2 linked regions of the Homo sapiens genome follow. The protein of the gene in region 1 interacts with the protein of each later gene in a pairwise test. Each region holds a gene or a part of one and is shown on either strand. Other genes may lie near its edges.

Region 1 (4,283 bases):
AATTTAATTTGAATAATCACTCTCAATAAGGCATGGAGTCTTTGGTCTGCCTGGGCGAATTTTACCAGGACACTTGCTTGCCTGCCTCTCCACACAGGGAATGTGGCATATCTACTGCAAACAGAGAGAGGGAGCTGGGAGCCTCTCTGCTGTATTCCCCCAAAGCTGCCCAAACCACATTTATCATTGGAAGGAGTGTTAGTCTGTTTTCACGCTGCTGATAAAGACATACCTGAGACTGGGCAATTTACAAAAGAAAGAGGTTTAATGGACTTACAGTTCCACATGACTGGGGAGGCCTCACAATCATGGTGGAAGGTAAAAGGCACGTCTCACATGGTGGCAGACAAGAGAAGAATGAGAGCCAAGTGAAAGGTGAAACCCCTTATAAAATCATCAGATTTTGTGAGACTTATTCACTACCATGAGAACAGTATGGGGAAAACTGCCCCATTATCAGTGATCTCCCACTGGCTCCCTCCCACAACAAGTGGGGATTATGGGAGCTACAATTCAAGATGAGATTTGGGTGGGACACAGCCAGACCATATCAGAGGGCTTCCCAGTTCACTCTTGCACTACCTTTTCCCTTTGGACTCTAGCATTTTGTTCAATATGTCTGTCTTAGTATGTTCAAGCTGCTACAATAAAATGCCATGGATTGGGTGGCTTAAATGACAAACATTTATTTCTCACAGTTCTGAAGGCTGGAAGTGCAGGATCAGGATGCTGGCAGACTTGGTCTCTGGTAACAGGCTGCTTCCTGGTTTGCAGACAGTTGCCCTCTTGCGTTTCCTCACATGGCTGAGAGAGCGAGAGCTTTAGTCTCTTCTCCTTCTTATAAGGACTTTAATCCCATATAAATGCCACCCTCATCTAGACCTCATTGAAACCTCATCACCTCCCAAAGGCCCCACCTCCAAATACTATCACATTGCAGGTTAGAGTTTCAGCGTATGAATGGAGATACACAAATGTTCAGTTCATGCAAACTCTATCCTACCCTGTTCACATTCTACTACAGCTACCAGCGCGTGCATCCTTTTTCCTATCGAGATTGTGGAGTTCCTCAGTGGCAGAGACAATATTTCTCATTACTCTTACATTTACATTGCCTAGGATAGTCCCTGATACATTTTCCTCCCTTCATTCTGGCACTGTGCTAGGTGTAGACTTCAAGATCAAGAGATAAAGTCTCATTTCACAAAAATCTCAGGATTGTGTAGGGGAGGCAAGTAAGTAAATAAAGAATATGGCAGAATGCAATGAACATATGGTGGGTATGTGCCTAAGACGCTATTGCACTCACAAAAGACTCATTCTGGAAGTAGTAATGGGAAGAGTGGTTGGCCAGGAAGGTTTCCTGGAAGAGGTATTTGTGCTGAGTCTTCCAGACCACAGAGGAGTTAGCTTGTTGGGGAAGATGGGAAAGGGTTAATCCAGGCAGCAGGTGCCGTATGGCCCTGGCAGCTAGAACCATGACCACCTTTGGGGAGATAATTATGAGCATGTTATAAAAGAGGAGGTAAGAGAGGAGCAAACAGGGTGCATAAAGTCATACAATTCTTAAAATATCTGGTGTCATAAGGGAATAGAATTTATTACAGCAGAGATACTGTTGATTGGATAATCACAGGCAATGAAGCTGAAAAGTTAGCCTAGGGTTGAAGTATAAAATAGCCTCAGACTTCAAGCTAAGGGGTTTGGATTTTGTCTTATTAGTGAGAAGTATTCAACAGATCTGAGCCTCCTCTTGCCCTGAAATCTTGTAGCCTTATATTTAAACACATTAATCAACAATAAAACATATAGACAGAAGTTATCTACTTGCCTATTTGATCAAATTCATTAATTAGTTTAGTGACAGTGAAGATGATGGGGCTATCCTATTTTAGTAGTAATAAGTAAATCAGAAGAAGAAGATGAATTGGAGTCAATAAAAGGAATGATGAAAGAGAGTCATCTTTAGATAAGTTGAGCCAAGGGAAAAAATGAGGAAGGACTTTCTAAAGCAAGATGTTGTCACAGTGCTAGCAACTACATATACAGAAATGAATCTTAGTTGCCAGGGCACTTCACTAATCAACTTACTTATTTTCAATATCCATAAAAAATGTTATATACTACTGGCATTCTAGTCTTAGCTACTCTAAAGAAAGAATAAAATAGACTTCAAGTTTGTAAAACTTAAAGAAGTTGTTTTTATATGTGAAATTTAAAAATATTTGTGTGTATGTTTCTTTGTTAGGTCAATGTGAACCAATTACATTGGAACTCTGCATGAATTTGCCCTACAACAGTACAAGTTATCCAAATTATTTTGGCCACAGGACTCAAAAGGAAGCATCCATCAGCTGGGAGTCTTCTCTTTTCCCTGCACTTGTTCAAACCAACTGTTATAAATACCTCATGTTCTTTTCTTGCACCATTTTGGTACCAAAATGTGATGTGAATACAGGCGAGCATATCCCTCCTTGCAGGTAATATGATGGGATCTACCCCAGTCCCTTATTTTGCCTCAGAGAGAACCAAGGGGTGAAGACTTAGTTGAGTTTGGACAACGTAAATTTCCCTAAGGAGCTCTGCATTTATCAAATACTTTATATTTAACAAGTGAGACAAAGAAGTAGAAGTTGTAAAATGAATATTTGAGTCAGAATTCATTAACGAAGTACCAAACAAGGGAGCTGTGAACGTCCTTTGATGATAGTTTATGTGTTTTAATCAAATAAATTCACAGGTATTTCATTCTGTTGTATTAAAAAGCCATTTTTTTAAAAAAGTATGATAGTATAAAAGGGATATATCTGCCTCTTTTTCTGGCAACACTGATGTGTTTACAATGCTGCACTCTGACAGCACTTGTTAGAGATATGACATAAGAATACATAGTGCCAGACTCACAGATTGGACAGCGATGGACATTGCTGACATTTCTCTGCCTGTTTGAATGAAATAAGATGCGCTATTTCAAGAGCGTAGCTTGGACTTTGAATATGAGTGATATTCTAGTGTCAAGAGTATTGTTCCAGAGTCCATGTTTGGGTTAAAATCTTGACCCTTCTCTAGTTTCTAGGTAGCCCTTAGACAAAATCCTGAGTCTCTCTCAGCCTCGGTTCCTTTACATGTAGAATAAGGATAGTAATGGTTGTTGGGTTGTATTGTTTTGAGATCAAATGAATGTAAAGTGCTTCTGATTCATTGTAATGAACCCTGAATGGACAATAGCTATGATGATAGCACAGGAACACAATAGCTTCTTGGCAGTCTGTCCCTTTGCTGCGCCATGTGTTAGGCATTGTAGTCAGAGGGTTTGCATATACAGGATGACTCTCAGAAGTGAGTTGCTACTCTCTTCAGTGCTGTTTTCCCTCAAGGGGTAGGTATACAAATGTGCTGGCCTAAATGCGAGTAGCAACTGCAGAAACCATATGTTGGGATCAGAAGTCACGCAGAGTTTTTTTTAAAAAGCAGTACTATTACTATAGTGGACAGAAGAGAAAACAATAAATTATATGCTGAATACCAAATGGATAACAAAGTAAGGGCATCTATAGAGACAGGACAGGAAATAATAAAATTTCAAAATGACTTGGGGAACTGAACAAATTATACCAATAGAGAGAATAAAACTAAATGTTAGCTTGTGTAGAAAAATATCTGAAAATTTCTGCTAAGTACTTTTAAAAGTATCTCTAATAAAACATCTACCAATTTTATGTTAAAAAGCTGTTTTAAATCTTACTTCACTTTTGCAAAGCAAGGTCAGTGATAGTGAATAATTTCTTTTAATAGTACTTAACAATTTCTGGCATTTGACTTTCTTTTCATATGTAGATAAAAATTTCCCTGAAGCAGCATTTTCTGCTATAAATATAAATGTGAATTTATATCCAGATGTAATTTATAATTTCAGGGCTTAAGTTCCATATTAAAATGCATAAGACCAAGGATGATCCTGAAGTGTTGTTCAATCAAAATTTTGGTAAATTTCTTTTAGATAAATTTATTTCTTTTTTTCAGGTTTACCCATACATCTTTCATTTTCAGTGTCTATCACTACGAATTTTATATTTTGATATTTGTTTATAAGAAATTTTTGAATAATATGCTAATAAGTTCATAAAGCAATACATAGTTGCTTTTGCTAGGTGTGTTTATTAATTTTAACATTGAATTTTTTAGCTATGAGACTGAAAAATCTAACATCGAGTCCTTACAATGGGCTAAATACTTGAGGATTGTTATGCTGTAGCGTACTCAAAATAACCTTTTGAAGTGTG
Region 2 (2,314 bases), on another chromosome or scaffold:
TGACCTCTTTGGGCTCAAGCAATCCTTCCACCTCAGCCTCCTATGTAGCTGGGACCTGAGGCATGTGCCACTACACCCAGCTAATTTTTTGATTTTTTTTGTGGAGACAGGGTTTTGCCATGTTGCCCCAGGCTGGTCTCTAACTCCTGGGCTCAAGTGATCCTCCCACCTCAGCTGCTTAAAGTGCTGATATTACAGGCCTGAGCCATCATGCCCATCACCAATTATCACATTTTTAGAAATTTTGCATCCTAGTTACTAAACCAGTGGTAGATTGAAATTGACCATGAGGGAGCATGAGCATTTACATTGAGCTGGCAAATGCTGTATGTCAGGATTCCTCCTCCAGAGTCTGCTATTAAACATGTACCAGCCACCATTATATATATGCTAGATACACTGCAGTTATTAAGAATTATATATATGTACACGTATATATACTATTGATACAGTGTAATTGTTAAACATTTAAAAAAATGAAATACAACTTTCAGGGCACATTTCAGCCAAATTCATATTTATTCCAGTCTCTAACACTCTGTTGTTATGTCTGCTGTAAGATGATCAGGAGTTAGTATGAAGTATTCTTCTCTACGCACCAAAGAAAACAAACAAAGCAAACTTCAAGTCAGTGAATTAGTTACCACAGTTAAAATGCATTTGATTTTGTCCTTTTCCTTTTTCACAAGAACGACAGCTGAATACTCTTTCATGTGATGCCTGATATTTTTCTTTTTCTTTTTCTCTCTTTTTTGAGACAGGGTCTTTAAGATGGGGTCTCGCTCTGTTGCCCAGGTTGGAGTGCAGTGGTGCAATCTTGGCTCATTGCAACCTCAGCCTCCTGTTTTCAAGTGATTCTTCTGACTCAGCCTCCCAGGTAGCTGGGATTACAGGCATGTGCCACCGTGCCCGGCTAATTTTTGTATTTTTAGTAGAGATGGGGGTTTCACCATGTTGGCCAGGATGGTCTCGAACTCCTGACCTGAAGTGATCCACCCGCCTCGGCCTCCCAAAGTGCTGGGATTACCGGTGTGAGCCACTGTGCCAGGCTCTGATGTTGATATTTTTCTGTTACAGTCCTTAGCCCAGGCATCCTGTAGCACTCTGTGTCCCAGACTTTTTGATGCAGAAACAAGACTGAAGGAAGATTGTCCAATATAGGAAAGATTCAACTTTTCCTCTATGTGTTTGTCCGCTGGTATTCCTATGAGGCATTTGAGTTACAGGTAGCAGCACATCAGCAAATGACTCCGCTCCCTCTCTCAGCACACATAGCCTAATTGTTACAGAACCCCGAAGGGACACCTGAATGTCCTTTCTTTCAAGGCAATATGTATGACACGCTTTCAAATCTCCTCCTGCCTACTCTGCTTACCTAAAGGGCAAGGGGAGAAAATCCAGCACTGACATAGAGTCTGTAGGTTGAATAAGGCAGCCAAGATTAGAGAGATGTAAGTGAAGAAACCCACTTTATCTGGCTTTGGAGAGAGCTAGTGACTTAAGGCAGGATGTTCATCTGTATCATGTTGACTGGGACAGTCCTGGTTGTTCCCAGTGCAGCTCCATTATCATCCATCTGGCAGTGGGGAGTCTCTGCTGCCCATGTGGTGCTGGCATATGCAGTTCTGCTCATGCTCCTAACGTGAATGCATAAAACACCCCTGCAGTGCCACAGCACTGCTATGAGTTCATGGAAGGCGTAGGTGAGGATACAAGGCAAGAGTGCTCTGGCACCAACACTTGGAGGGGCCACCTGAGCATAAGTTTTCTTAGAGGCTCAGAATTCAAATTGCTAATAGGCTCTTGGAGCAAAATTGCAAAGGACAGATAGGCTTGTTGGTGGCTTCTGTTTTCTTCGCTAACAATCCAGGTTAGTTCTGATTTCCTTCCTGGTCACTTAAAACACCTTAGTAAGTGTGTTAATTGACTTTTAGAGTTGCAAAGGGCTTTTTATTCCATTCAACCCCTGTTCAATTTACAGGTGAGGAAACTGAAATAAGGTACTTAAGTGACTTGCCTAAAGTCACGCAGCTGGCGAGAGGTAGGAGCAGGCTTTCTGACACACTCATCTGGCATTCTTGAGGCTATCCCTACAAATCCTCTTGACCTCTGGTAGAAATTCCACCTCCACCAAATATCTTTCTAAATACATTCATAGCTGGGTGGCTGGATATGGACTCTGAAGCAGAAGATGCTTCATGAAATATTTTTGGTTTATCTAATAACTTTGGTCCAAATACGTATACAGAACTATATACTGAGGTAGCATTACTGAATTTGCCATACGAAACATCTTCACTTTCATCCATCAGGT

The links.
Region 2: the proteins of CORIN (region 1) and GPX8 interact in binary tests that used the Homo sapiens proteins (3 or more experiments, as listed by UniProt).

Annotation. Positions count from the first base shown.
Region 1 is NC_000004.12:47,663,229-47,667,511, reverse strand, and holds part of CORIN (atrial natriuretic peptide-converting enzyme), read left to right. Parts: intron 1-2,248; coding exon 2,249-2,480; intron 2,481-4,283. UniProt on the Homo sapiens protein: Serine-type endopeptidase involved in atrial natriuretic peptide (NPPA) and brain natriuretic peptide (NPPB) processing.
Region 2 is NC_000005.10:55,165,484-55,167,797, reverse strand, and holds the end of GPX8 (probable glutathione peroxidase 8), read right to left. Parts: 3' UTR 501-2,314; downstream 1-500.